2 separate regions of the Homo sapiens genome follow, and region 2 is linked to region 1. Evidence: fine-mapped expression QTL. A gene starts in region 1. The other region holds a variant in brackets. All regions are shown on one strand. Distances are from middle to middle.

Region 1 (4,000 bases):
ATATTATCCTGTGAAAAGATAAATTAAGAGGGACAGAGCCCGGGTTTGGGTAATTCTGAGAGCCAGCTGGCCATCTGTTTACTTTGCTTGGTGTTCACAGCATATTTTGTGAACATTCCAGTTTTTCTGTGAGATTCTCACAGATGAATTGGTGCTGTGGGAACCATCTGGCAGACCCCAGCCACAACAGCTGCAAATCCTTACAGCCATGTCTACCAGGTCAGCCTGCACTGGGACCTGCCTGAATCAAAAGTTTGCTGCCTGAATTTGTGCATTACAATTCAGCTGGAATTCACAGATATTAAATGTTCTTTGTTGGGATTAGGAAAGGGACAATGTGCTTGCCATGTGTTATGGAACAACTGAGGACACAAACATGACCATGGTTTCCCTTCCTGAAAGAAGTAAAACATTTATTATTTTTGGATTGGTCTACATTGTAATAAAAGTTGATATGTAACAAAACATATCTACATAGTGATTTTTTTTTATTGTCAATTGTCAAAGTTTACTACCACACTAACAGAACAATGACTTTTAACATACGGGTATATCCATAGATTAGGTCTCATTAAAGCTGTTACTAAATGGGGTCTAGGGATGGGGTCTAAGGAATACAGCTTTAGGAACAAATGTGGAAATGGGGATAGATTTATTTATTCCACTCATTAATTCATTCAATATAGTTTTTTGTTGGGAGCAGACAAGGTCTCTCGCTTTGTCACCTAGGATGTGGTGCAGTGGATTCGACATCTGGGCTTAACAGATTCTCCCATCTCAGCCTCCTGAGTAGCGGGGATTACAGGCATGCGCCACCACGCCCGGCTAATTTTTGTATTTTTTTGTACAGACAGGGTCTCCCAGGTTGCCCAGGCTAGTCTCGAACTCCTGGGCTCAATCAAGCGATCCGTCCACCTTGGCCTCCCAAAGTGCTGGGATTACAATCAATATACATTTAGTACCTATTATTTATGGGCTAATCATGTGCTAATGGACTGGTGGAATCACTCTATTCCCTTTGCTCTAGATTGAAGCTTCGAGACCACCTGGGAAAATAGACAACTAATGTAATGAATATCCATAACCAGTTTCAGAGACAACCAGTAGTTTGCAAGTTATTCCACCCATTAAACGATTCCAAATGTTGGAGAAAAGGCCCCCAACTTAAAATACTCCACGGAAACGTGCTCTATACATCTATGTGGTGCTTACAATAAAAGATGAATTCCTGCGACTGAGTTGCAACCCCGAAAGAAATGATTTAGAGAAAAAAAGAAAGAAAGAAAAAGGTAAGTATGTCACCGTGCTTTTGGAAAATGCTTTTGGGATTTGTCCAAGTTCTAGAGTGGAACCCAAGGCTCCTGGGCCAGGGGACAGAAGTGATAACTAAGTAGGATGCAATTTAGTTGGAATCTTCCCTGACCTTAATCCCATAAACAGTTGCCTAGGTAAAGGCAAAGTCTACAGGCCCTAAAACAGGGTACAAGCTTTCCCTAAAACATATTAGAGAGAGGCACTTTCAACAGGACCTTGTTGCAGGATCCCTAAAAAAAAAATTCAAAACAAGGAGATTTACATGTTATTCACCTTATCATAATTTCAGAAATATTTTACTAATAAAAAAGGAGTCGTGAAGTCTGGAACACCTTAAGACGTGACGTCTGCAACACCTTAAGAACAATGATTACAAATGTATTAATATTCTCTCTGATTTTAAGGGAAAAGTGATGAAGGAACAGGAAGATGGGTGGGCGTATGTTCCCAGAAATCCCCAGAACGTCAAAAAGGAAGCGGAGGCTTTGAGTGGAGGACTACGGAGAGCGTCTACGGTTGTGCCAAAGGAAAAAAAATGTTCCTAAGAAAAGAGTATACAAAGTTGTGTTCATCAAAGTCTGGAACCCAAAGGTGTCCCTCCAAAGCTGTACACGACAGAGAAAACGCGAACTGAAAGAAGAAGCAGGTCCCAAGGGGCCAGGCGCCTCCTCCACCTCCTCCTCCTCCTAGGTACGTAGGGCAGAACTAAGGCTGACCCAGACGTAACTCAGCCCTCTCCTCACGCCAGCCGCAGCCAAGCATCCCACGGAGCCTCCCCCCGCGCCCGTCGCCGTGGCGACCGCCGGGGCCACGCAGCACCGCCCCTTCCTCGCGACGTGGCCCCGCCCTCTGAGAACCCGGAAGCGGGAGTCTCGCGCCAGCTGAGCGGCGGTCGGGCGGGGGGAGCGCGGCGGCCCAAGCTCGCTCGGCCACGCGCCCCGCCCCCTCAGAGGCCGGCCTCCCGCACGCACCGCGCAGCCTGCTGTGCCCGTGGGTCCCGAGTGCTCCGCCGCCCGCCCCGACCCGGGCCCAGCCGCCTCCACGGCCCGCGCTCGTACTGGAGCGAAGAGCGGCCTCCTGAAGGAGGGGAAGGGACGTGGGGGCGGCCACGGCAGGTGAGGGTGGGCGAAGCCCTGGGAAGCGGCTGGGTGTGCGGTATGCGGGGTTGTAGGTGTGTGTGTGTGGCGCGTGGCTGCCTTGGTTGGTGTGACTTTGTGAGTGTGTTCTGAGTGGGCCGGTCCATGTGACCACGCACGTGATCACGTGCCCTTGTGAGTGTGTGTCTGGGGCCGAATCTGGGCTGTGGGGTGGTCGGTGTGCTTGTGACCCTGCCTTTGTGTGGCTGTCACCGGTGGGACTGGCGGGGAGCTGTGTGTGAGTCTCCAGCGGGAGGTGGGGGCGGCACAGGGCTTAACCGGGGCATCCTCCTGTAAACCCATCCTGGGGCTACACGACTGCAGCCCAGGAACATTTCTTTCTTTCTTTCTTTCTTTTTTTTTTTCTCAGCAAACTTTTAAGAACTGTGAGCAGAGGCCAGTAATTTTGGAGACAGGACCTCGGCCTGAAAGTGATAGATGTCTTTGTTGTTACTGAGTGTGGGCCAGGTGTAAGGTTTGTAAACGGGGGATGAGGAACAGAGCGGGACCGGAGTGTCTCATTTTTCCTCTTCTCGTTTTCCTGGGGAGTTATAAGTTAGACATTTATGCTGCTTCCTTTGTCTCCACCTACACTGGTTCAGCTCCTTTTGGCACAAAGATTCAACAAATTAAGGAGTAACTTTTTTTTTTTTTTTTTTTTTGAGACGGAGTCTCGCTCCGTCGCCCAGGCTGGAGTGCAGTGGCGCCATCCCAGCTCACTGCAAGCTCTGTCTGCTGGGTTTACGCCATTCTCCTGCCTCAGCCTCCCGAGTAGCTGGCACTACAGGCTCCCGCCACCACGCCCGGCTAATTTTTTGTATTTTTAGTAGAGACGGGGTTTCACCGTGTTAGCCAGGATGGCCTCGATCTCCTGACCTCGTGATCCGCCCGCCTCGGCCTCCCAAAGGGCTGAGATTACAGGCGTGAGCCATCGCGGCTGGCCACTGAGGAGTAACTTAATAGCTGTGTCCAAATTCCAAAAGCTTTTTTCCCAAGAGCATGAGAAGAGATGTCACAGATGTCAGGTAGGCACCTTTTCCTCCTGTAAGGTTTAGAGATAATGCAATGAAGAAAAGAGGGATAGATCTCCCCTGAAGAGATCTAAGAAAAGGATAGCTGTGTACTTCTGTGGTGAGGGATGGAGACGTGCATTAAAAAGCCAGTTGCATCTCCCAGAGACTCTCAGCTTCTAATATTTTGTTATGGCTAGTATTTATAAGCACAGATTTTCCACAATGCACATCAACTATAGATTGAAATAAAGTAGCAGAAACCTCTGACTAATTATGCTGGTTATGTGACTTAAACATTGATAAAGGTGATTTTGTTGACTTTAAAGTGGCAGGTTCTGTTGAAGCCATGAGGGATAGGGGCATAGTCACAACTGGCAGGTTTTTTTGTTTGTTTGTTTGTTTGTTTTTTGAGACAGAGTCTCACTCTGTCGCCCAGGCTGGAGTGCAGTGGTGTGATCTCAGCTCACTGCAACCTCCGCCACCCAGGTTCAAGCAATTCTCCTGCCTCAGCCTCCTAAGTAGCTGGGATTACAGGAG
Region 2 (4,526 bases), 28 kb after region 1:
GTCTCTACTAAAAATACAAAAATTAGCTGGGCATGGTGGCGGGCACCTGTAATCCCAGCTACTCGGGAGGCTGAGGCAGGAGAATTGGGTGAACCCGGGAGGCGGAGGTTGGAGTGAACCAAGATAGTGCCACTGCACTCCAGCCTGGGCAACAAGAGTGACACTCCAGCTCAAAAAATAAATAAAATAATGATTCTGCATTTCAACAGATACATTTGCTGCAATTCCATGGAACCAAATACGCGGCCATTGACCCATCAATGGTCAGTGCCGAGGAGCTTGAGGTGCAGAAAGGCAGCCTTGGCATCAGCCAGGAGGAGCAGTAGTGTGTCTCTCGCTGTCAATGATGAGTTGACCCGGTGTGTTCTTGTATAGTCAGTGGCATCAGCACCCGTCAGCCAGCCTTTTCCTTCAGGTTCGTCAGGCTCACCGGTTCTCACTGTGTCTGGGAAGTAGGACTGATGGTCATCTTCATGACAGGCGGCATCTCCACTAAGCCTGTGTAACTGTTCCCTCTTTGGTTTTCTTAGCTTTTGAATTTGAAGAAGTACTTTTGAAGACTCCCATTTTAAGAACCGTGCAAATTTTGCTACCAAAAGTCTTCACCACTGTGTTCTTAAGTGAATGTTAATTTCTGAGGTTTGGGACTTTGTGGTGGTTTTTTTCTTCTTTTCTTTTCCATTCTTCTTTCTTTCTTTTTATGTTGTTTGCTGTAAATGCTGCACATCCAGATTGCATATCAGGACATTGGTTATTTTATGCTTTCTTGGATATAACCATGATCAGAGTGCCATGGCCACTACCCCACTGTTTGCTCTCCTGCAAATCAACTGCTTTTAATTTACACTTAAACAAATTGTTTTGAGTGTTAGCTACTGCCTTTCTAGATATTAGTCATTTGGAATAAAAATTCAATTTAACTGAGTCGCTTTTGTGATTATTGTTGCTGCCCAACTGGGCTACACAGGCCTAGGACTTTCTGAGAAGTAGGTCATGGTTGCCAATTCTGTGTGACTTTGGGTAAGTTACTTAATCTCCCTGAAGTACAGTTTGCACATCATAAAATAACCCTAAGCTATCATTTATTGATCTGCTACTGTGTGCCAGGTACTTTTCTCGTCTTCTTTCCCCTGAGTGAAAATGCTTAAACCCACATGAAGTAGAGAAAATGGCATAATGAATGATGTTCCCATCATCCAGCTTCAAAAATTATCAACTCTCAGACAGTCTTGTTCATCTTTTCTTTTTTTTTTTTTTGAGACAGAGTTTCGCTCTTGTTGCCCAGGCTGGAGTGCAATGACGTGATCTCGGCTCACCGCAACCTCCGCCTCCCGGGTTCAAGCAATTCTTCTGCCTCAGCCTCCCAAGTAGCTGAGATTACAGGTATGCACCACCACGCCCGGCTAATTTTGTATTTTTAGTAGAGATGGGGTTTCTCCATGTTGGTCAGGCTAGTCTCGAGCTCCTGACCTCAGGTGATCTGCCCACATCAGCCTCCCAAAGTGCTGGGATTACAGGCATGAGCCACCATGCCCGGACTTGTTCATCTTTTAACCTACCCACGTTTCTTCCACACATGCTCCTATCACTAAATTATTTTAAAGCCATTTCTGGTGCTGTGTCATTTCATCTGTAAATATTTCTATGTGTACCTTTAAGATACAGCCTTAATACCATTATCACACTTAAAAATTTACCAATAATTCCTTCAATTATTTACCAATAATTCCTTCACTGGATTGTCTAATAATCCAGTGAATGTTGTCACTCACAATTATTCCATAAATTTTTTTTTATAGGTGACTTGTTCTAATCATATAAAGCCCACACTTTGTCTCTTAGATCTCTTTTGAACTGGAAGCTCCTCCTCCCTCTATTTTTTCTTGCCATATATTCAGTGAAGAAACAGGTTCATTTGCCCTGTAGTTGCCCCACAGTCCAGATTTGGCTGACTGTGGCCTCATGGTGTCCTTCCACTTGTTTCTCTGTCCCTGGTATTTCCTGTAAACTGGTAGTTACATCAAGAGGCTTGATCAGGTCAAGCTCGATCTTTTTGGCAGGAACACTGCATAGATGGGGCTGTGTGTTTCTCTCGCGTCATCTCAGGAGGCATCTGTCTGGTTGTGTCTAAGTTATTATGATTGCTGGGTGTGTTCAGGCATCACCAGCCTGATCCAGTCCTGAGAAAGTCCCCTGCTGGCTTAGCTGCCACTGCTGACCATTGCACAGGTGCATCATTCCATGAGGGGTTGCAGGTCAGTGATAATATTAATTTTTATCATTCCTTCTGCATTTATTAACTGGAAATTACCGATTTAAAAAAACAAAAACTTGCCCTCATCGACTGCTTGGTTTCGCTGAGATACAATTTAGACAGAAAAATAAGCATCAGTGCTTCTTTCCCTTTATGTGCCAGGTTTCAGAATATTGGGTTGGCCATACCTTCTTAGACTTCATCCCCAATACAGCCCTGATTATCCTGACTTTACAGGTGAGGACCTGGAGACTGGGTCAGGCAGTAAGGGGTGGAGCTGGGATGCCACCTTGAATCTGACCATCCCTAAAGCCAGTGATCTTTCCACAAAGGGGCCACATTGTCTTCTCTATCTGTGGCTTGACAACAGTCATGAGTTATGGAAACACTTGGTAAACCATAAGGGCGAAGCTTGACATTTTAACTAGTAGCGTCTGAGGCTACTAGAGCCGTC[T/C]AACAACTTTAACTACTCCCCAGCTCTGCCCCCTGATGACTGCAAGTTGTCATTGCCAGCCCTGATCAATTTTGAGTACTGGCCTTGAATGCGTACTCAGGCCTATTAGGCCAGCCTTCAACAGGCATCTCAGCCTTCGACAGGCAACCAGTCAAAAGCTATGCCCATGGCCCCACTGCCCAAACCTGCCCTTCCTCTTCTAGCCCCATTTTCTTAGGTCCTGGCATCACTATTTCTTGGAATCCCCAGTTAGAAACTCAGCCATCTTGGACCCTCCACCCCCACTCACTCCTCCACCCCCATGTCTCAGGCTGAAGCGGATGCAGAGATGAAAATTTGGGTGCAAGATGTTTATTAAGGATCAACATCTGTGGCCTGGTGTGGTGGCTCACACCTGTAATCCCAGTACTTTGGGAGGCCAAGGGGAGTGGATCACCTGAGGTCAGGAGTTCAAGACCAGCCAGGCCAACATGGAGAAACCCAGTCTCTACTAAAAATACAAAAAAATTAGCCAGACCTGGCGGCACGTGCCTGTAATCCCAGCTACTCAGGAGGCTGAAGCAGGACAATCACTTGAACCAGAGTGGCAGAGGTTACGGTGAGCTGAGATGGTGTCACTGCACTCCAGCCTGAGCAACAGAGTGAGACTCAATCTCCAAAACAAAACAAAAAAACAACATCTGTGAAGGGAAGATGGATTGGGCAGAGAGCGAAATTGAACTGTGATGCAGGCCCGATCAAGTACCCACCAACTCAGTAGGGCACGCAGGAGCTTGAAGCACCCACTGGAATATTTTCATGGAGGACTAAAATGGCTGGGTCTCTATGCTCCCGCGTAGCTCAGTTCCCAGAGGCAGCTGCCCTGGGGAGGGCAGGGTGTTGGGTGGGGCAACTCTCTGCAGCTGAGGCAGACCCTGAAGGGCTGACAGCTGGAGGCCATCTGCCCAGCTCACTCCTGCAGCTGGATGGAAAGGCCTTCCTGGAAGAAGGGGGTCCGGGCAATGCATTTCCACATCTACTACACCTATATCCCCTGACTCTCAGAGATCTAGCAACTTGCCTGCAAACTTGAGCCTTCCTCACTACAAGTTAGGCCTTGGCATCTTTTGCCCAGACTACTACAGTCCTCACTGGCTCCACCAGCCATCTCCTCCCACCCCCACCCATCCTCTGTGTGGTCCACACACAGGTCTGATCTTGTCACTTGCCAGTGCATGAACACTAAGGGACCTCTGTTGTGGAAATCAGACTAGTTTCAGAAACTCTGAAGTGGGGCTGTAACCATTTAGTGAAGCTCTGCACACAGGAAGAGATGCGGGGAGCAACCTCCACTAAGAGCCAGGGACTCCTTCACCTCAGTTCTTAACCTGGGAGTTTTATGGGTTCATTTTGATACATGATGTGATCCAGGGCCTGTACCCGCTTCTAGAAGTTATCTTGGGATCCACAGGAGAAAGACTTCGCACTTTTTAAGTATATAAACCTGCAGACTATATGTGAATAGTTTTAAGTACAGTATATATCTTAAAAAGGGGCCAGGCACAGTGGCTCACGCCTGCAATCCCAGCACTTTGGAAGGCCAACCCAGGCAGATCACGAGGTCAGGAGATCAAGACCATCCTGGCCAACATGTTGAAACCCCATCGCTACTAAAAATACAAAAAAAAATTAGCTGGGCGTGGTGGCATGTGCCTGTAATTCCATCTACTTGGGAGGCTGAAGAGGAGAATCGCTTGAACCAGGGAGTCGGAGGCTGCAGTAAGCCGAGATCGCACCACTGCACGCCAGCCTGGCAACAGAGGAAGACTCCGTCTCAAA

Which allele goes with the higher level. Alleles are on the strand shown, and positions count from the first base shown. SD is a standard deviation of normalised expression in the study named.
For the expression in thyroid of the gene that starts at base 2,180 in region 1, allele T in region 2 goes with a higher level than allele C (moderate effect, 0.62 SD a copy in GTEx).

Evidence for each region.
Region 2: its variant is fine-mapped to the expression of SPG21 in thyroid (GTEx, PIP above 0.99).

Annotation. Positions count from the first base shown.
Region 1 is chr15:64,988,094-64,992,093 of GRCh38, reverse strand. SPG21 (SPG21 abhydrolase domain containing, maspardin) reads left to right here and starts at 2,180. Exons shown (of 9, transcript NM_016630.7): 1 at 2,180-2,429. RefSeq lists enhancers at 1,747-1,806, 1,847-1,916, 1,972-2,471, 2,472-2,973 and silencers at 1,987-2,476, 2,597-2,646, 2,449-2,743.
Region 2 is chr15:64,959,420-64,963,945 of GRCh38, reverse strand. SPG21 (SPG21 abhydrolase domain containing, maspardin) reads left to right here. Exons shown (of 9, transcript NM_016630.7): 9 at 210-924. The coding sequence ends at 326. Among named protein-coding and RNA genes, the nearest start is that of SPG21, 28 kb to the left of the region's middle. The variant T/C (reference allele first, on the strand shown) is at 2,709.